3 linked regions of the Homo sapiens genome follow. The protein of the gene in region 2 purifies or fractionates together with the protein of the main gene of each other region. This does not show direct contact. Each region holds a gene or a part of one and is shown on either strand. Other genes may lie near its edges.

Region 1 (7,108 bases), on a different chromosome or scaffold from region 2:
GCTAGTTCCCATCCCAGCAAAGTTTGTTGAGTAACTTGCAGTGACTACTTCTGCCTTTTAAAACCTTTTTTATTTTTTATTTTCTGAGGCCGGCACTGTGAAACCTTCGTCGATGTGTGTCCCCAGATGCCCTGCCTGAATGGAGGGACTTGTGCTGTGGCCAGTAACATGCCTGATGGTTTCATTTGCCGTTGTCCCCCGGTAAGTGCCCTGTTGCTCATCTAAGAAGGGGCATTGTCTCTTCCATACAATCTGTGAACAGAACTGAGATTAAACCTGGTTTTACCAATCTTCGAAATGGGAAGATTTCTCAATTTTAGCTCTTTCAGAGGAAAGTGCTTGGGTTTTTCCATTTAAAGCTGTTTACAAGTGACAAAACAAAACAAAAACAAATAAAAGCTGTTTAGACACTCCCAGAAACAGTGAGCTTCCCAATCCATGACTGTCAGTCTTAAGAAAAACTAAGGGAAAACCACAAAAAGTGGTGGAGTGCCCCCTTGAAAATAGGGCTGATGTGTGGGGCTTCTTGGCCCCAGGCTGGAGGGTAATCTCACTGCCCAGATTGGGCCAGAGTTGGTGGAAATGCTGCTCTTACATTCTTTAGCAGGAACCATTTGGAAGCAAGTTGTCTCTTAAAGTAGAGGGAAGCTCAATTTTAGCTATTTGCTATACCCATTCTTTTATCACTGCCAGAGGTTGAAACCTTCCCAAAACAAGAGATCCCTATGCCTCGGGAGATACCAAAAGGAAACCTGTCTAGTAACCTTGGCTTGGGCTGAACGGGAAGTACAGAAGGGAGTGAGATGTGGAGGTTTTCTAGAAACCTCAAACTTCCAATATGACTGTTTTCCTACCAATGCCATTTTTATTTCCTCACTGATTTCCACAGGGATTTTCCGGGGCAAGGTGCCAGAGCAGCTGTGGACAAGTGAAATGTAGGAAGGGGGAGCAGTGTGTGCACACCGCCTCTGGACCCCGCTGCTTCTGCCCCAGTCCCCGGGACTGCGAGTCAGGCTGTGCCAGTAGCCCCTGCCAGCACGGGGGCAGCTGCCACCCTCAGCGCCAGCCTCCTTATTACTCCTGCCAGTGTGCCCCACCATTCTCGGGTAGCCGCTGTGAACTCTACACGGCACCCCCCAGCACCCCTCCTGCCACCTGTCTGAGCCAGTATTGTGCCGACAAAGCTCGGGATGGCGTCTGTGATGAGGCCTGCAACAGCCATGCCTGCCAGTGGGATGGGGGTGACTGTTCTCTCACCATGGAGAACCCCTGGGCCAACTGCTCCTCCCCACTTCCCTGCTGGGATTATATCAACAACCAGTGTGATGAGCTGTGCAACACGGTCGAGTGCCTGTTTGACAACTTTGAATGCCAGGGGAACAGCAAGACATGCAAGTAAGGGCTTCACGTTTTCCAGAACTGAAGGGGACTGTCACTAACACACTTCAGTTTCTCGTTCTTGCTCCTAACCACTCCAGTGCTTCAGCCTAAGCTGCCTCTGCTTTTCAGATGGTGCCAGCCTTGTCCCATCGCACACTGCCCTGTGCTCTCCCTTGCTGACAATGGGCCAGGAATGCTCATTGCATAATGACCCTCTCTCTCTGCCTATCTTTGCCTTCTCACCTGCTGCCTTCGTGACCTCCTGGGGGATATAACTTTTGGAAGTGGTGTTTCCCACTTCAAGCAGCCTCTCACATAACCTGCCTGCAGGATGGATGGAAAGGTCTGTATCTCTCTCTTCACCCCATTCCTTTCCCTAAGACTGTTTTTCCCCATCTAGATTTATCAGGAAGCATGAATTAGATTAAGTCTGTGAACCCTCCCGGTCTTAATTGTATAGGATGCTCTATGGTTTACTTAGGAACTTTCCTATTAACTAGCCATTCCATATAATTTAATCCCAATTAATTCTCAGCAACTCACGAGGCATAGGTATTACTAACATTCTTTCATAGGTGAGAGAACTTAGGCCCAAGGGTTAAAGAACTTGCCAAAGCAAGTTGTTTCTTTGACTCCTAATCTTCTGATTGAGCTAGCATGAAAAGTTGTACCAAATAGTATAAATATCAAGGGGTAGGGGATGAGGAGAGGAGAGTATAGATGGAATAGTTTGTACATCATTTAGGTTTGGGGGTTCTAATTCCTTTTCCAAATATTGAAAGAGCCTGTACAAGTAATATCTGGTGTGCTATAAGGACATACCCATCTGCCTTTACCTTCTGTAGTTGGGATTCACTCTTGAAAGGGAAAGAAATGGGTCATGTTAATATTGTTCTCTGTATGGCAACTCTCAATGGTTCAGGGCCTTGTATCAAGTTTCTAGAGGCATCTTTCACTTCCTAAAGCCCGTTGTTACCTTACTGGGGGCAATGGATTTCTCTAAAGTAGAGGAAGCATGAACCAGGTTGACTTTTGTTTCAGATATGCAGCTTTGTTTGAAAACCTGACTTAACAGGCTTGTAAACTGCCTGGGAGCCCCTAAGCTCCTGCAGCATAGTGAGTACAATGTTCTTCATTTAGGAAGTACTCAACAAGGATGAGTGGCATAGGCATCAGGGATAGGAGATGCAAAGAAGGTTTTGTGGGGCATTTGGGTCCTGGGTGTGGGCCACAGAAAATGGGTAGGAAAATCCACAGTAGTTCCAAATGAAAAAGCAAATAGAGCTCCAGTCTAATCTGAGCTCTTTTGCCTGTTCTCTGCTTCCCCTTACCTAGGTATGACAAATACTGTGCAGACCACTTCAAAGACAACCACTGTGACCAGGGGTGCAACAGTGAGGAGTGTGGTTGGGATGGGCTGGACTGTGCTGCTGACCAACCTGAGAACCTGGCAGAAGGTACCCTGGTTATTGTGGTATTGATGCCACCTGAACAACTGCTCCAGGATGCTCGCAGCTTCTTGCGGGCACTGGGTACCCTGCTCCACACCAACCTGCGCATTAAGCGGGACTCCCAGGGGGAACTCATGGTGTACCCCTATTATGGTGAGAAGTCAGCTGCTATGAAGAAACAGAGGATGACACGCAGATCCCTTCCTGGTGAACAAGAACAGGAGGTGGCTGGGTAGGTGTTTGGTTTCTGAACTTCAAGGCTAATTTTATGAAGCCTAGCACTTTGACATATAGCACAAGTCATAACTCAACCTATAGAAATGCAAAGATCAGAAAAATAGAATGGCCCACCACTTAAGATAAACCCGTTACCCCAGTACTTACGTTTAAATGTAAAGATATGCCTTCGTCTTGGCTGAAAAGTGGGCAGGGGTACACAGGAGGCAGAATGTCTGGAAGGCCTCCTCAGATGCCAGAATCCATAACCTTTTGCCAGAGTTGCCTCAAATCCCTTTATTAGTGACATTCCTTTTTACATTAATCATTGCCTTATTGTTAAGGCCCTTCTTTAGAATATATGTCTCTTTGACACAGGTAATGATCTTCAGTTGCTCTGTCATTCACACCTCACTCTTTGTTGGTATATTGTCAAACTTTCAACCCTCCAGCTAGCTGAGATACCAATGCAGAGACAAAGGAAAATAAGGACTAAAAACACACAGGGATGTATGTTTAGAGTAGCACCAAGTACCACTGAGTAGGTATGAAAGAGTGGAAGAAGACCACTGAAACCTTCGGGAGGAAAGCACAGCTTCTCACTTTGTCATGCATTGCCTCAGCCAGAAGGCTTTGGTCAGCCAGACTAAGGAAGGTGGGACATCCTCTATGTGGGAATTAGTGTTTAAGATCTCAAGGGACAGTATTCTAATTCCTGAGATATGTCTTAAGGCAGCATCCCAGAGGTGGGGACCTGATGCTGAAGGGGAGGAAGGGAGGCTCCTGTCACCCTTTATGACATGTTCTGCCTGACCTGCACTCTTCTGTTTTACCCCCATCTCTCCTCCTCCGCTTCTCCCTTGGCATCCCACAGCTCTAAAGTCTTTCTGGAAATTGACAACCGCCAGTGTGTTCAAGACTCAGACCACTGCTTCAAGAACACGGATGCAGCAGCAGCTCTCCTGGCCTCTCACGCCATACAGGGGACCCTGTCATACCCTCTTGTGTCTGTCGTCAGTGAGTGGCACTGGTGTAAAGGGGAAAGGTGGCGGGGGAAGAGTGTCAATTGGGGGAACAATTTTCATTATGTAGCCCTCTATTTTTTCAGGACTGTTGAGGTCAAAGTTGCCCTCTAAATGAATCTAATGCTGACATTGAGAGGTTAATGTTTTATTCAGCACTTTCCCTGTCTCTGTGGACTTTCAGGTGAATCCCTGACTCCAGAACGCACTCAGCTCCTCTATCTCCTTGCTGTTGCTGTTGTCATCATTCTGTTTATTATTCTGCTGGGGGTAATCATGGCAAAACGAAAGCGTAAGCATGGCTCTCTCTGGCTGCCTGAAGGTTTCACTCTTCGCCGAGATGCAAGCAATCACAAGCGTCGTGAGCCAGTGGGACAGGATGCTGTGGGGCTGAAGTAAGAGGCATTGCCAATAAGCCACTATTCACAGTATAAGTAGGGATGACTAGAAAAGCATATCTTGTTGAATCATGATTTTAAATTCTAAGCTCTGGGCATTTACTCACATTGACCATGATTCTAAATGCCTTGTGAGTGACTGAAACCACAGTCAGAGCGTGGGTGCATCTATTCTGTGTATATTATCACAATGCCGCCCAGCTTCTGTGTTGAGGTGCCCTTTTGTTGTAAGCTCACGATCAATGGGAAGGGAAAGGATGAATGCCAAGGGAATGTCACCAAAAATACTGCCCATCTTCTCTGGGCCAAGACCCTGCAAAATTGTAATATAGCCACGGGAGTGTGTCATGGTGGAAAGTGTTGAAAACCACTGTATTAGTTTATGACTGCCATTCTTATTTTTTCTTTTTATAATCATATTAGAAATCTCTCAGTGCAAGTCTCAGAAGCTAACCTAATTGGTACTGGAACAAGTGAACACTGGGTCGATGATGAAGGGCCCCAGCCAAAGAAAGTAAAGGTGAGGTGGCCATGGTAGAACCACCATTGTCAGCCATTATCTGGTTACATTTCAAATTTCTGTCCTTTAGCTCCAGAGTGTCCTGAATGGGAGTAAAGAGTGATAGTCTTGATGTCTTACCCAGACAATAACTATCCTAGGTTCTCCTAAACAGCAGGAATCCTTAGGACGTAAATGACCTTGGGTTACCTATATATGCTCTTCAAGAATAACTCTTTAAAAATACTAAGCACATCTGTTTCCTTTAGTGTTATGCTGGCAGTAGTCAAGTCAGGAATGGTGTGTGTAGATGGCAATTCCTTCATGGCCACATCTCTTCCTTATCCTTTATGGGCACTTCTTCTATAAGAGAAGATGAAATTAAGCAGTGGAAGAAAGCCAGTTATCATTGACATTGGCAAAATGAAAGCCAGTGATCATGGCAAAACGTTGACATTGGAGGCTCCATACCTTGAGCCCAGGAAACTAAAGCCATATAAAAGCAAGTGGTAGATTGGGCTGAGACTGACATGAAAAAGCAGACCATCCATCCACAGCTGTGCATGGCTGGGAGCTGGTGGAGCATGATGGTTAAGAAGATTGCTTTAGTTAATATCAGAACTGGATTCAAATCCAAAACTCTGCCGCTTAGTAGCTGGCAAGTTACTTAACCTCTTTGTAATTATCCTTCCTTGTAAAATGCGGATAATAATAACCCTTTCCTCTGTGAGTTGTTGTGTTGGCATATGTGCCTTATCTACTTTCCTGTCATGTACTAGGTATTCAGTAAAGGGTAGCTGCTTTTAAATTATCATGATTATTATTATTGAATAGTCTTTCCTGAGTGCTTACTACATGTTGGGTGCTATGTTGAGTACAAGGAAACAACCTTGAACAAGGCTTATTTTCCCTTCTTGAGAAGCTTACAGCCTTGTGGTGGAGATGGCCATGTAGTGCTGTGTAAGCATTTAACACATGATCAGTTAAGCAGAGGTAAGCAGAGTATGCTTTTTAGGGCCAACAAGAAGAATTAAAGTTTACTTTCTAGTGGAGGGTAGGAAAAGTGAGAATTGGGTGCTCTGGAGATCTAAAGGCTAAAGCCTAGAGTTTGGGATTGGGGGAGGGAGTTGTCTAGATGATGCAGGAAAGGTAAGCAGGAGCCACATCACGAGAGCAGTGGGAAGCCAAGGCTGAGGTAATCCTCTGGAGGGGTGGAGGAGTAGGAAGAGAGAAAACAATGGGAGATAAGCAGCGGTGGTGGAGGCTCTGGACACCTTCTGATTAGCAGTTTCTGGTGGTGGCCAGATTGATAGGGAGCATTGTTTTCACCTTTCAGGCTGAAGATGAGGCCTTACTCTCAGAAGAAGATGACCCCATTGATCGACGGCCATGGACACAGCAGCACCTTGAAGCTGCAGACATCCGTAGGACACCATCGCTGGCTCTCACCCCTCCTCAGGCAGAGCAGGAGGTGGATGTGTTAGATGTGAATGTCCGTGGCCCAGGTCAGCACCGGGCCTCTTCCCCTCTTCACTGGGCTGTGTCTGCCCATGGTTCCACATTGTTGTCCCTGTGTTTGCCCTGTCCAGTCATAAACCCCTTCCCAATTTCACAGACTCTAAATCAGCTCGAGGAAATGAATGCTTAAGGAATGTAGCCACAAAGAAATTATCAGCTCAGAAAGGGAAGGATTTCACATTGCTTCATGTACAGTGTGTTGAGACTAAACAGGCTGATAAAATGGGTTAGATTGTAGTGGGATAGAAAAATAATATCCCAAAGCAGAGGATAGTTAGTATCTTATGCATGTATTAATTGTTCTATTAATATTAGATATTTTTAAATGTCCAATTAAAATAACAGCACTTAAACTTGAACAGAAAAACGTGTTTAGAGAAGAGCCCCCAGCTTAAAAAGACTTGTACTTTCCCATTATTCTTTACAGAAATGATACTATCAGAGGAAAAGGTGGCAAATGTGAAACTAATAACCAGTTACTACAAGAAGTACAGGGAATTCTTTGCCCCTAAGAATAACTTTAGTCAAATAGAGCTGTTTCAACCATAGGGTTAACTACCTTCTCCTTCTTGAGTACTTTATGGAATTTTCCATTCCTACAGATGGCTGCACCCCATTGATGTT
Region 2 (7,108 bases):
TCAGTAGAAGGGAAGTTAAATCTTCCTCCGTAAGGCAAAGCCCAAGATTTTAAAATTCTGAGCTTAACCAGATCCAACAACCAGAACAACTGGGCTTTTCAGAAGAAAAAGGCCACAAACTCCAACAAAATAATGAGGTAGCACCTACGGCTTGGGATAGACCCACCTGCCCATACAATCAACTGTAAGCAATAAGTACCAATGTGTTCCCAAGATACTAAGTGCAGAAGGATCGGACGCCACTAAATCCCAATCTGTCACGGCTGGCAGAAGAGAGAGGGTGAAGGGTGGGGAGGGGTCGTGGAGGCGGCCCCCCTGCAGTCATGACGCACCTGTAAACTGGCTGCATCTCCCGGGCTATGCCGATGATGGCGCCTGGCAGGAAACTGTCAAATTCCTCAAACAACTCCCGGATGTTGGTCTTAAACTTCAGGTCTAGGTCCAGCTGAATGATCTGCAGGATCTCTGCGGGAAAGAGAAAAGGACAATGAGACACAGGTACACCTCCTGGGAGGCTCGGCCACGGACAGAAAATGAAGTGGAGGGCAGAGAAAAGGGCACTGGACTCTTACTGTTGTCAGTGAATGATGCACAGTTACCGCTGGAACAAAAGGCCTTTCATCTACCAGCAACCCCTCCACACTATTAGTCTTCACAAACGACTACCCGTGTCTTTTCTTCCAACTGCAGACATCCATTTTGCTTAAAACTAGGCGACCACACGCTCCAGTGTCGGCCTGCTGTCCTGATGTAACTGTTAACCGTGCACCATTTCACTCTCAAAAGTATCTCATTTGGATGATACCTTATGTGGACACCCTGCTTCCCTACATAAAACTCAAAGCGGGCCGGGCACAGTGGCTCACATCTGTAATCCCAGCATTTTGGGAGGCCGAGGCGGGTAGATCACGAGGTCAGGAGTTTGAGACCAGCCTGACCAACATTGTGAAACCCTGTCTCTACTAAAAATACAAAAATTAGCTGGGCGTGGTGGCAGGTGCCTGTAATTCCAGCTAGTCAGTAGGCTGAGGCAGGAGAATTGCTTGAACCCAGGAGGCAGAGGTTGCAGTGAGCTGAGATCGCGCCACTGCACTCCAGCCTGGGCAACAGAGCAAGGCGCCATCTCAAAAAAAAAAAAAAAAAAAAAAAACCCTCAAAGCATCCAGGTGTTTCCTCTTTGGAGCACAGGTGATAAATAACCCACACAAGAGAGAAGTAAAAAACATTATGGTCTCAGGCCTTTATCAGTGCGTTCTGCAAACCCAGATGTGTGTCAAGTGAAGATGCTGACCAGAGCGAAACGGCTGAATGATCTCAGATACCACAGTGTTTTTAATCCACTGCCTAAAAGACAGGATGAGCCCAGATTCTTCAATGTCACAATCACCTGGCACCTAAGAGCTGCTTCCATCACCTCCAGGTGACTCCGGGCTAGAAGCACAGGAGGGAGGCACTGGCGAAGGTCATTCCCCTATCCTTCACCCAGCCCAGCCTGACCAGGATCCTAGGTGTTGTGCCAGGCACCAAGCTGACCAGGACCCTGCCCTCAAGAGAGACATGCGGGTGGCAAAAAACAGAGGGAGGGGCCAGTGCTGAAGCCTGAAATGGAAGAGCAGCTGTGGGAGGTCCAAAGAGGGGGCGCATGGGGTTCAATGATGAAGCAGCGAGAGCAAGTTCCTGGTACCCGGCCTGGGAATCAGAACACACGAGTGCAACTTCCAGTTCTGCTGCTGATTGACCCTGTGACCCAGGGAAAGTTATTTTACTTCTCTGCACCTCAGCTGTTCCATTGGCTAAAATGGGGAGGTTCTCCTGTGCCTTGTGTGGGAAATAGCTTATGGACAGTGTTACAGGGATCCTAGAGACCTTGAGGAACAGAATTCTGGAGCACAGCACCACACTGGCCAAATGTAGAATTTGTGCAAAGGCAATTTAAGGAACTTGGGATAATTTTGCTCTAACTAAAGAAACTCCTGATGGGAGGAAGGGCCGTGCATTTAGTCAGCCTGTCAATCATCACATCGAAAGCCCACCACCTGCTACAGGTGCTCTCTCTTTCAAGGCCATCTAAACTCTACTTATTCTGCAAGCAGCAGCCTAAACACCCCAGACAGGCCCTGCAGGAGTCATGGCTTCCTGCTCTGTGCTCCCCACATGGCTGTCTGCCTGCCTGTGGTCATGGCCACCCGCGTACCTGTCTCACCACCCTTCTGGAGAGGGCATTCCTTGAGAATGGGAATATGCTGGGAGGGCGGGGCTCAGGACCATCAGACGCTTCTGGATGAGCATCTTCATCTTGTCTTAATATACCCTTCAGTAAACCTGAGCACTTCCCCTGCGCTTTAGGGACCAACTGGGAGTAAACCCAGAAAGGTCCTATGTAGGCCTAAGACACCAGAATCTGAGCTGCTTCGATGTTATTTACAACTCCTCCTTCCTAAAGCACCTTCCAGGAAGGGTTTGCTTAAAGTTGGTAACACTTCACCAGGTGAGGTCCACCGACTAGGAAGGAGACAGGCGGCAACTCCAGCACAAAGTGACCCATTCACACAGATATAAAACAACTGAGATGGGAGGCCACTCCTTTCTATTCCCGGAGGCCAACAGGCCCCTGTGCAGCCTGCACTGTCCTGCGGGCACCTGTCCAGGAGGTTAGCCCCTTCATGTAATTATGAAATAAGACGCCAAGTTGTAAATGTCACTGCTGAAGAGAAAGATGCTTACTAGGAATGCTGGAATTCATTAGGATGAGGTTTCTAAAGGGGCCTGTTCCTCTGGCCTCTGGTCCTTGAGGTAGCTGTCTCTCTGTGGGAAATATGTGGGGGCAAGAGGGTTACACAGAACGCTGAAGGCTTTGTGAGGACAAAATGAGACTGATCCATGGAAGTAACATCGCAGAGAAGATGCTGGTTGGAGGATAGCTGAAATGATAGCAGTAGGATCACTGAAATGTAAGGAATAAATGAACGAGATAACTGCCCCCAAAGCCAGGAAGACATGAAACCTAAGAATCATGAGGAAGAATGAGAAAAAGGAAGACTAGACAGCTACAAGACTCACAAGAATGGCCAGCACCCAAGGCTGCCTGAATGTCCACCATGTCCAAATCTTGAGAAAACGCAACAAAAAGAATGGCATGGCAGATCTGAAAACACTGGTTATAACTGATGCCACTCTACCCATTTTACAGATGAGGAAGCTGAGGGCCAAGAAGAGAGACTTGTCAGGCATTACACGCAAGCTAGGTGGCAAAGCTGATCTCAGAACCCAGGTCTACTGACTCCCTAGTTAATGCTCCTGTGTTTATTAGCCCCGTCACCTCCAACCCACTCCCAACACAGGCCATAAACTCCTAGAGAGCAGAATGCATTGTGTAATGGACCAAAGGGTGTGCTCAGGACTAACCAGGCACCCAACACAACTAGCTCGTGGAGTATCTGCATATCATCCCATGGAAATATCAGCATGAAGACAAGTGAGTACAAGCTAAAGGTGTAGCTTTCAACACCTCCAAGACCCTGTCACCATCATTGCCGTCACGGCCCTGGCAGCACTCCTCAGGAGCTCCTGGCTGTCCAGGGGACTATTTTCAGGGCTGAGAACACCTATGTCTTCTGCCTGGGTTTGAGGCCTGGCTGGCGGCCGATGCTTCCGTACAATTACACCACAGAGGGCCACATGCACGGCCCCAGTACCAGCTGGGAGATTTTCAAATCAACATTCCCAAGGGGATGTGCGGTTGGAATTGGCGGTGGTGGATCTCACATCCAGCAGAAACTTGGGTCGCTTCTGAGCTGGACGTTTCTCTGTCAAAGCGCTCTTCTCCATTTCCCTCCCAGGACATGCTTGGGCCAACTCGGCTCATCATCAGCATCCAATTAAACCAGCCACAAGCATGTCATCTGACCATGGGTGGAATTACAACCCAGAGTGAGTAATTAATGATACCCAAAAATAAACAAGAAAAGGAAAAAAAAATCCAGAAGAAAAAAATAGTGAGCCTTCTGTCCTCTCCTTTCCCTTCTCCTATCCCCAGAAACAATTCTTAGCAGACACATCTTAACACACAAAAAGCAACACGCAACAAAATAGATCAAGAAACGATGCAAAGAAAAGACATGCTCAGGTAAGCACAGTGCCTACTGTCCTGGGAAACACAACAGGCCTTCAGGGAGGGGCAGGTGAACCATGCAAGCGCCTCCTCTGTCTTTCTGTTTTGAAATGGCTTCAGAGATTTGCAGAGATAAATATTTACAACACATTAGAGGGCTTTCACTGCAGAGCATCAGCCCAAATTCCACTAACTGGGAGAGGGTTTAGGGAGAAGGGGAAATGATGACAGCATTAAGCTATGTGACTCCAGCGTCCTGAGGCTGAGGACCTGGAAGCAGCTGCCTGGAAAAGGGGCTAATTTTCCCATTGTCCACTTTGAAATATTGCAGCAATATGCCACCTGCCTTATCATACTCTGGTGTTTTTAAATTGCTGTTCAGGAGCACCTCTGGCCTGCGGGAGCCAAAGGGCAACTGAAAGGGGTGGAGACTTCCCCTAACAGTGAGAGGATCCTGACCCCAGAGGAGTTGTTTTGAGGCCCACGGGACAGGCACGGTCCCCCTGTGCTCCACCAGCCAGACCAGGCTGGCTTCTCGCACTGGAGGGTCTGAGCATGTGGTAGAGGGTCCGCCCCGCGACGCACAGACCCAGGGCGTGTCCCCAAGGGGATGTGCGGTTGGAATTGGCGGTGGTGGATCTCACATCCAACAGAAACTTGGGTCGCTTCTGGGCTGGATGTTTCTCTGTCAAAGCGCTCTTCTCCATTTCCCTCCCAGGACAAGGCCCAGCCACAGGGCAGCTGGCTCACTATAGGAATAGGGGCTACAAAGGAAGACGGGGAGCTTGCCAAGGGTCCTGCGCCTTGGCCACAGATTCTAGGGGCTCCTCCAGCCTGACCAGACAAATGTTCACCCTCTAGGAGCAGGGAAGGGATGTCTGTGTGCCAGGCCCTGGGAAGGCTTTGCATGCTGATTCAGCCCATGAACCTCCATCATGTCTCCTCGAGGTGGTGGTTAGTATCTTCCAGTTTCAGATGAGGAACCTGATGCTCAGAGACTTTCGGTAATTTGTTTAAGACAACTCAGCAAAAAAGGCTCAGGGTGGAGAGCAATTACAGATTCGCCTCGCTCGATAGTTTGCTTGAGCCACGACACATTTCTGAGAAAAGCCTTCGGACATCTCTGAAGTCCCTTTTAAAGTCCTCTTATGAGCCAGAAATGCTTCCACATCAAGGGTGAAGATAGCAGACGACCCCAGATCATCTCTGTGCAGTGGCTGGGGCTTCATGGACAGAACCCCCAACCATGACCACCTCCCACAAGACCCTCATCCCCAAGAAGCATGAAGACTATTGGGATTCTCTTTCATTGACAAAGACCAATAGAGAAACTTCTGGAAGAAAGGGTTTTATGCCCTTGTATCACCGAATCATCTAAACACTCTATGAGATATATAGATATATAGATTTTTTTTTTTTTTTTTTGAGATGGAGTCTTGCTCTGTCACCCTGGCTGGAGGGCAATGGCGCGATCTTGGCTCACTGCAACCTCCGCCTCCCGGGTTCAAGCAATTCTCCTGCCTCAGCCTCCTGAGGCACGCCACCATACCCGGCTAATTTTTATATTTTTAGTAGAGACGGGGTTTCACCATGTTGGCCAGGCTGGTCTCAAACTCCTGAATTCAGGTGATCCGCCCACCTTGGCCTCCCAAAGTGCTAGGATTACAGGTGTGAGCCACCACGCCCAGCCCTGAGATTAATATTATTTCTATTTGGCTGGGTGCAGTGGCTGATGCCTGTAATCCCAGCACTTAGGAAGACTGAGGCAGGAGGATCACTTGAGCTCGGGAATCTGAGGCTGCAGTGAGCTGTGTTCGCACCACTGCACTCCAGCCTGGGTGACCGGGTGACCAAGTGAGGCCCTGTTTCAAAAAAAAAAAAAAAAAATTCCACTTGACAAATGAGGAAATCGAGAAGTATAATAATCCAAGATCACGCAGCTGGTCAGTGGTAGGGCTCGAAACCCCGTCTGTTGGGCTCGACAGCCTGGTGCCTGCTTTTCACTGCCCATGCTGCCCTGCCTTCCGGGCTCCTGGGCAGCCAGGATACGGCCAGCGCTCAGCTTTGCAGGCTCTGCCCAGACAGGAAGGCCTTGACTCTCACTGTGCTAATCTATGTTTTCCACATTAGCAGCCTGCCCCTCCTCGGATGGTCGGGGGGAGAAAGGAAACAGAGTTCATAGAGTGATTTATGCAACCTGTTAGCAGCTCTGGTAAAAGGTTTTGGGTCCAGGAAGTTGAAATGAATAACCACAGCCAGTTTCATATATTCGCTGTACAACAAACTTTCTTCAGGCCTTACTCGCCCCCTCTCAAAATGAAGCATGAAAAACTGTGTTGGCTATGGCTCAGCCATGGCATTGTTTATAGCGCCCAGCTCCTGTTTTGTGGACCAAACAAATTATCATGAGAAGACACAGTTTTTGCTTCAGCAACAGTGTAACATGAGTCTCCTTCCTCATCCTTAGCACCTTCTGCTAAGAGGTATAAATCATATCCTTTAGGATAGGACAGAATTTATTTTGAACTTGGCTGAAAAATTTGGGGGACTTACATAAGACAGCACATATAACACCCAATGTAAATTTCCCTCTCGCTTCTATTGCCAATATGAAGTGATGGCTTACGCACGGATTGATGTAGTTCAATACACAGGGGAAATGGAATTTGAGATCTGAAAATCTTCCATTTCTATGGTAAGGATGTCCATGGTCCCTGCTGGCCTTTCCATAGTTCACATCTCTCTCGTGTCTGCTATAAGTTTTTGGTTTTTTTTTGTCTCTAAAAGCTTAAATTCTTTCCTATTTGAGGCAGGAACACATCTGGACTCTGTTCACAACAGTTAGACCGATGATGCTTAGTCTTTCTTCTTCACCAACAGGCTTTTTTTCAGAGACCCCTGGGGGAGAAGCTGTAGAAAGCAATCCTTTTTGGATAGAATTATCAGGTGTTTTCTGAAAATAATGATACAGATACCACTGGTTGCCCAAACTGTCAC
Region 3 (7,108 bases), on a different chromosome or scaffold from region 2:
GAAATGTATTTTTCATAGTTCTGGATGCTGGGAAGTCCATTATCAAGGTATCGGCATCTTGAGAGGGCCTCTTTGCTGCTGTATCATCCTATGGTGGAAGGGTAGGAGAGCACACAGCAAGAGGCGCAGAGGGGCCAAACTTGCTTTTGTAACAAAGCCACTCTCTAACCCAGTCCCGCAATAATGACATTAATCTATTCATGGCGGCAGAACCCTCTTGATCTAATCACCTCTTAAAGGTTCTACTTCTCAACATGGTTGCATTGAAGGTTAAGTTTCCAGCACATGAACTTTGGGGGACACGTTCAGGCCATAATAGAATATTTGTGTGATTTTGTTTTTTTGACACAGGGTCTTGCTTTGTTGCCCAGGCTGGAATGCAATGGCATGATCACTGCCTTATTGCAGCCTCGACCTTCTGGGCTCAAACAATCCTCCCACCTCAGCCTCTTAAGTAACTGGGACTACAGGCAAGAACCACTATGCCCAGCTAATTTTTATTTATTTATTTTTGTAGAGATGAGCGTCTTACTAGATTGCCCAGGCTGGTCTCAAACTCCTGGGCTTAAGCAATCCTCCTGCCTCAGCCTTCCAAAGTGTTGGGATTAAAGGTGTGAACCACCACTCCCAGCTCATAACAGCATATTAATAGAGTTAATGAAATGCTATAAATGTTTGGAGTGAAGTCGTAAATGAAATTTGCTTTCCCATGTAGCCAAGTGGTAAATGAAATTTACCACTGTAAATTTGAATCAGTACCACTGATTCAACTTCAAATTCTTTGTTCATTACTGAATTGCCTCTTACTGAATCTGACCTGGTCTGTCTACCTCTGATGCAAATGAATTTACCACTGCTTTCCATGTATGTTGTTGCTAAGGTTCTAGATCAGGGTAGTAAATGTAGGGATGGACTGGGAATAATGGGGAAAGTTAGTTCTAGGGAGGCAGAAATAGTTCTGTTTTAGAGTAGACTAAACCAGGTACCTAGTCTTTCACAAAAGCCCTTTGAAAACCCAGAAAGTCTTTGGACCTTCAGAGTGGAGACATATCTGTTGGTTGGGCATTGAACTGAGCCAGCAACATGCCATTGTTTCAGACTACTTCAGGTCTCTATAAGCTAGCTTCAAGCTAAATTACATTTCCCAAGTCTGTCGTTGACTTCTGGGTGGGGAGAGATGAGTGAGATAGGACTTCAGCAGCTTTGCCTTTATATTGCCTTGCCTTTTGAAAAACGACCCATGCTTGAAGACACATCTTCAGATATAGGATCTGATTATATTAATCTATATTAATAGATTTTTTAGTTGTAATCTATTAGTTCCTACTGTAGAATATGAGAATTTAGCTCTCTTTCTGCCTTCCACTCACCCCATCACGTATGCATCTTTTTCTGTGCCTTTTTTTTTTTTTTTTTTTTTGAGACGAGTCTCGCTCTGTCGCCCAGGCCGGAGTGCAGTGGCGCTGTCTCGGCTCACTGCAAGCCCCGCCTCCCGGGTTGACGCCATTCTGCCTTAGCCTCCCGAGTAGCTGGGACTTTAGGCGCCCGCCACGGCGCCCGGCTAATTTTTTGTATTTTTAGTAGAGACGGGGTTTCACAGTGTTAGCCAGGATGGTCTGGATCTCCTGACCTCGTGATCCGCCCGCCTTGGCCTCCCAAAGTGCTCGGATTACAGGCGTGAGCCACCATGCCCGGCCTCCGTGCTCTGACTCTTATAATTTAAGCTGTGGAATAATCTATGATAACTCTTCCTCAACAATTTTATGATCTGCATGTGGCTAATAATTGTTTTATTTTGGTTTTCATTTGCTTAGCTTACTATGTATTTATCACTGAGTCAATTTCAAAGTCTTTGTTCGTTACCGAATCACCTCTTAAGGCCTTTAGATACATTGGATATTTTACAATTTCCTCTCCTGACAATGCAAACTTTCTGACCTGGTCTGTCTACCTCTGATGCACAACTAATCCTAGGATTTCCCTTCATTGTTGTTTCCAAAACAACTTTTTTGAACCTCATATGTTGGATTTTTATTGTCAGTATCCTTTAGCTTTCTCTTGGTTGGTTTTCTTCCTTGTTGCCTTATTGGAACATAACCTCTAAGAGCTTCCTGAAATGTAGTGCATCAGTAATAAATGTTTTAAGACCTTGCAAGTCTGAAAGTTATTTTATTTTGCCTTGTTACTGGCATGATAATTTGAATGGTTGTAGCATTCTAATTTTAAAATAATTTTCTTTCAGAATTGTGATGGAATCCATTGTATTTCATCTTCTAGTGTTACTGTTGAGAAGTCTGAAGCCATTCTGATTTTTGAACTATTTTTTTTTTCTTTCTGGAAGGCAGTCTACTTCTATCCATTGTTCCAGGCCATTGGCGGGCCCTTTTAATATGAAAACTCATGTCCATAAATTCTGGGAAATGTTCTTCAATTAATTCTTTGGCTGCTTTCTCTTTATTTTTTCTGTCTTCTTTTTTCTGGAACTGTTTTTATTCAGATATTGAACTTGCTTTCTAAATTTCTCTCTTTTTTTTTTTTCTTGGCTGTAATCTCTAGCAGGTTGCCTTGACTTTGTGAAATTATGTCCTTGTTTCATGGTTGCAATATCTTATACCTCTAAGGATGATAATGACAATTTAAAAAAATGTTTTAAGGTATTTCCTCCTTAATGGTCTGTTTTCCTCCATATTGGTTTTTTTCTCATCTCTATTTGTTTTGATCACTGTATTTCATGCTGGAGGCTTTCCCCAGATGTCTGGTAATCTTTATTGTGTGCTCAGTGTTATGGGTAGAGAATTAAGAAGCTCCTGGGAGATCTGTGCTCCTGGATGGGGCTTGCTGGTTGTGAGTTTTACTGTTGAGTTATCTGGTAGGGCCATTATATTGGGCTGATCTGCTGCCTAGAGGATGAGGGTATGGTTTCCAGGGTTTTCTTTTGGTGGTCTTGGGCTCCAGTAGGAATATACACATTCTTCACACTCCCAAGACTCAACTATCCTTATGTCCCCCCATTCAAAGATTTTCTTTTTAAAGAAAAAGCTTCAGACTTTTGCTGAGTACTAGCAGGACAGTTGTCTGGCTGGGTTGTCTAGCTGCACATCCCTCCCCCACCCCCCGTGTTTTGTTTTTGTTTTTTTTTTTGTCTTAATACCTTAAGTATTTTTTAAAATCAGTTTAAGAAATACTTAATGCTAACCATTTAAAACATTGTGCTAGGGACTTGGGAAGACACAAAGAACCTAATCTGGATTCTGCCATTAAGAACTTCACAGACCACTACCGAAGATGCACACAAACATCTATGCTTTGAAGTGTTAAGGGTTACACATAGTGGGTAGATTTAGTGGTTTACATAATACAGATTTTAAAACATGTTCTATCTTTTGACTTCCTCTGGGCTTATTGATAAAATGGTTTCAAAAGCATTAAAAAACAAAAACAACACCCCCTAAAATGAAGTGAACAAGTTGAAATTGGTTACTACCAGGTATCTTTCTTTGAAGACTTTTTCATAATGCTTCAGATTCTGAAGACTTTCGATTAGTCTTTCTTATCTTAGTTCCTGCCTCTTTGTCCTCACCTCTGGAGGTATATAGTGCTGTTAATTCTTTTCCTCCAGTTTTTTTATTGTGATACAATACACAAAACATAAAATTTGCCATCTTAACCATTTTAAACTGTACAGTTCAATGGTATTAAGTATATTCATAATGTGTAACCATCACCACCATCCATCTTTTAACTCTTTTTATCTCTTTACACTGAAACTGTACCTGTTTAAGCAATAACTCATTGTCTCCACCCCCAGACCCTGGCAACCACGATTCTACTTTATGTCTGTATGATTTTGACAGCTCTAAGTTCCACATATAAGTGGGATCATACAGTATTTGTGTTTTTATAACTGGCTTATTTCGTTTAGCACAATGTCCTCAAGGTTCTTCCATGTTGTAGCATATGTCAGAATTTCCCTCCTTTTTAAGGCTGAATAAAATTTCATGTTTATACCACATTTTGTTTATTCATCCATTGATGGACACTTAGGTTGATGCCACATTTGAGCTATTGTGAATAATGCTACTATGAATATGGTTATACACATATCTCTTTAAGATCCTGCTTTCATTTCCATTGGGAATATATCCAGAAATGGAATTGCTGAGTCATATGGTAATTTTATTTTTAATTTTTCTAGGAATTTCCATACTTTTTTCTGTAGCAGGTGTCTTTGCTTTCACGTAGTATATTCTGTATGTCTGTTAGTTCTAGTTGATTTATTTTGTTAAGTCCTCTTTTTCCTTACATGTTTTCTGTCTGATTATTCTATCCATTATTGAGATTGAGATATTGAAGTCTTCAACTATTATTGTAGAACTATCTATATATCACTTCAATTATGTCAGTTTTTGTTTTATATATTATGTGCATAAATGTTTATAATTGTTATATCTTCTTCCTGTACCGAACTTTTTATTAATATATAATATCCTTCTTTGTCTCTTGTTTTCTTTTTTTGATTTAAGGTCAATTTTGTCTAATGTTAATATAGCTGCTCCTGCTTTCTTTTGTTTGCTGTTTTCATGGAATATCCTGTTTCATCCTATCACTTTCAGTATATTTGTGTCTTTGGATCTAAAGTGAGTCTCATAAACAGCACCGAGCTGGATTATGTTTTTTAAAATGGTTTCTGCCAATCTTTGTCTTTTGATTGGAGAATTTAATTCATTTACATTGAAAGTAATCACCGATGCCATTTTGCTGTCTGTTTTCTATATGCCTTAAAGTTTGTTTGGTTTTTTTTTTTTTTTTTTTTGGTCTCTCATCTCCTGCATTACTGTCTTCTTTTGTGTTTAGTTGATTTATTTATTTATATGTTTGTTTATTTATTTATTTTATTTTTATCTTTTTTTGAGACGGAGTTTCAGTCTGTGGCCCAGGCTGGAGTGCAGTGGCGCAATCTCGGCTCACTGCAAGCTCCACCTCTTGGGTTCACGCCATTCTCCTGCCTCAGCCTCCCGAGTAGCTGGGACTACAGGCCCCTGCCACCACACCTGGCTAATTTTTTGTATTTTTAGTAGAGATGGGGTTTCACCGTGTTAGCCAGGATAGTCCCGATCTCCTGACCTTGTGATCCGCCGGCCTCAGCCTCCCAAAGTGCTGGGATTACAGGCGTGAGCCACGGCGCCCGGCCTAGTTTATTTATGTTTAAATTCCTTCCCCATTTCCTTAGTGTATATTCTATTTTTGTGTGTGTTTACCATGAGGATTATATTTAATATCCTAAAGTTGTAATCCTCTAATTTGAATGTATACATTTAACTTCAATAACAAACAAAAATTCTTCTTTATAGCTCCATCTTCACCCCTTTTGGTTGTTGGTGTCACAGAATTACATCTGTATGTACTCTGTGTCCTAAAAACATAAAGTAATAATTACTTTAAATGCCTTAATTTCTGAAATTATGTAGGAAAAATTTGGAGTTACAAACCAAAGTTACAATATCATTAGCTTTTAGGCTAATTTTTTTAATGTAATGTTTCTTAAATGACATAGAAATCAAAAGGTAGAGTTATAAACCACTATCGTATTTACCATTATTGAGATCTTTATTTCTTCATATTGCTTCAAGTCTGTCTAGTGTGTTTTCATTTCACTGTGCGAGAAGGCTCCTTTAAGCATTTCTTACAGGGAGGTCTCATGGCAGCAAACTCCCTCACCATTTTTTTTTTTTTTTTTTTTTTTAAGAAATGGTGTCTTACTCTTTTGGCCCAGGCGGGCATACAGTGGTACAGTCATAGCTCACTTAAGTCTCAAACTCCCAGGCTCAAGGGATCCTCTCGCCTTAGCCTCCCAAGTAACTGGGACTACAGGTGTGTACTATCACACCTAGCTAATGCTCCAAAAAAATTTTTCAAGATGGGGTTTCGCTATGTTGACCAGGCTGGAATGCAGTGGCTGTTCTTGAGTGTGGTCGCAGCACTCTGCAGCCTCCAACTTCTGGGCTCAAGCGGTTCTCCTATCTCAGTCTCCTGAGGTGCTGGGACTACAGGTGTGTGCTACTGCACTCAGTTTGACCTCCAAAGTTTTTGATGAGAAATCTACTAATTATATTATTGAGGATCCCTTGTATGTGATAAGTTACTTCTTTCTTACTGCTTTCAAGATTCTTTGTATCTCCCTTTCTTAAGTTTGAATATAATGTGACTTGGTGTGGGTCTCTTTGAATTTATCTTCTTGGAGTTTGTTGAGTTTCTTTGGATGTTTATATTCATGTCTTTCATCAAATTTGGGATGTTTCCAGCCATTATTTCTTCAGATATTCTCTCTGCTCCCTTTCCCCTCTCTCTAGGACTGCCACAATCTGTATGCTGGCCTACCTCATGTTGTTCCACAAGTCCCTTAGGCTCTGTTCATTTTTTTTTTTTTCAGTCTTTTTTTGTGTTCTTCAAACCTGATAATTTCTACTGTCCTATGTTCAAGTTTGCTAATTATTTCTTCTTGCTTGAATCTGTCTTCAAGTTGTCTAGTGAATAATTTCATTTCAGTTATCATACCTTTCATCTTCATAATTTCTTTTTGGTTTCTTTATAGGTTTTCTGCCTCTTTACTGATACTTCAGTTTTCTTCATGCATAATTTTCTTGACTTTCTCCATCTTCCTTTAGTTCTTTGAGCATGTTTAAAACAGTTGTTTTAAAGTCTCTGTCTAGTAGATCTGCTGCCAGGTCTTTTTCAGGGACAGTGTCTATTGACTTAATTTTTCCTTTGAATGGGCCATACTTTTCTGTTTATTTGTATGCGTGTGATTTTTTTGTTGTGGTTGAAAGTGAACATTTAATCTAATAATATAACTCTAGAAATCATATTCTTCCCCTTTTCCAGGGTTTGCTGTTTTTTGTTATGTTTTTGTGTATTATCTTTTTGTTGTTGTTGTTGTTGAAGGGTGTCTTTGTTTCAAATATCGGGCTAAGATGTAAACTTAGTCTTCTCAGTCTTTTCTGAGCCTGTGCTTTTCCCTGGGCATGCACTTTCACTTTCTAATTTTTTCCATATATGTAGTTCCTTTTGAATATCTTAGTCTTTATTATCTTGCTCCCAGAAGAGGAAA

What was found.
Region 1: the proteins of XXYLT1 (region 2) and NOTCH2 purify together in Homo sapiens (co-immunoprecipitation; 2 studies listed by BioGRID and IntAct, with this or other methods). This does not show direct contact.
Region 3: the proteins of XXYLT1 (region 2) and PLAA purify together in Homo sapiens (co-immunoprecipitation; 2 studies listed by BioGRID and IntAct, with this or other methods). This does not show direct contact.

The regions. Positions count from the first base shown.
Region 1 is NC_000001.11:119,919,592-119,926,699, reverse strand, and holds part of NOTCH2 (neurogenic locus notch homolog protein 2 isoform 1 preproprotein), read left to right. Parts: intron 1-88; coding exon 89-201; intron 202-889; coding exon 890-1,395; intron 1,396-2,715; coding exon 2,716-3,063; intron 3,064-3,921; coding exon 3,922-4,064; intron 4,065-4,253; coding exon 4,254-4,464; intron 4,465-4,890; coding exon 4,891-4,987; intron 4,988-6,302; coding exon 6,303-6,471; intron 6,472-7,086; coding exon 7,087-7,108. UniProt on the Homo sapiens protein: Functions as a receptor for membrane-bound ligands Jagged-1 (JAG1), Jagged-2 (JAG2) and Delta-1 (DLL1) to regulate cell-fate determination.
Region 2 is NC_000003.12:195,156,117-195,163,224, forward strand, and holds part of XXYLT1 (xyloside xylosyltransferase 1), read right to left. Parts: intron 5,462-7,108; exon of another isoform or gene 2,744-5,461; coding exon of another isoform or gene 2,725-2,743; intron 466-2,724; coding exon 333-465; intron 1-332. UniProt on the Homo sapiens protein: Alpha-1,3-xylosyltransferase, which elongates the O-linked xylose-glucose disaccharide attached to EGF-like repeats in the extracellular domain of target proteins by catalyzing the addition of the second xylose.
Region 3 is NC_000009.12:26,937,190-26,944,297, reverse strand, and holds part of PLAA (phospholipase A-2-activating protein), read left to right. Parts: intron 1-7,108. UniProt on the Homo sapiens protein: Plays a role in protein ubiquitination, sorting and degradation through its association with VCP. Involved in ubiquitin-mediated membrane proteins trafficking to late endosomes in an ESCRT-dependent manner, and hence plays a role in synaptic vesicle recycling.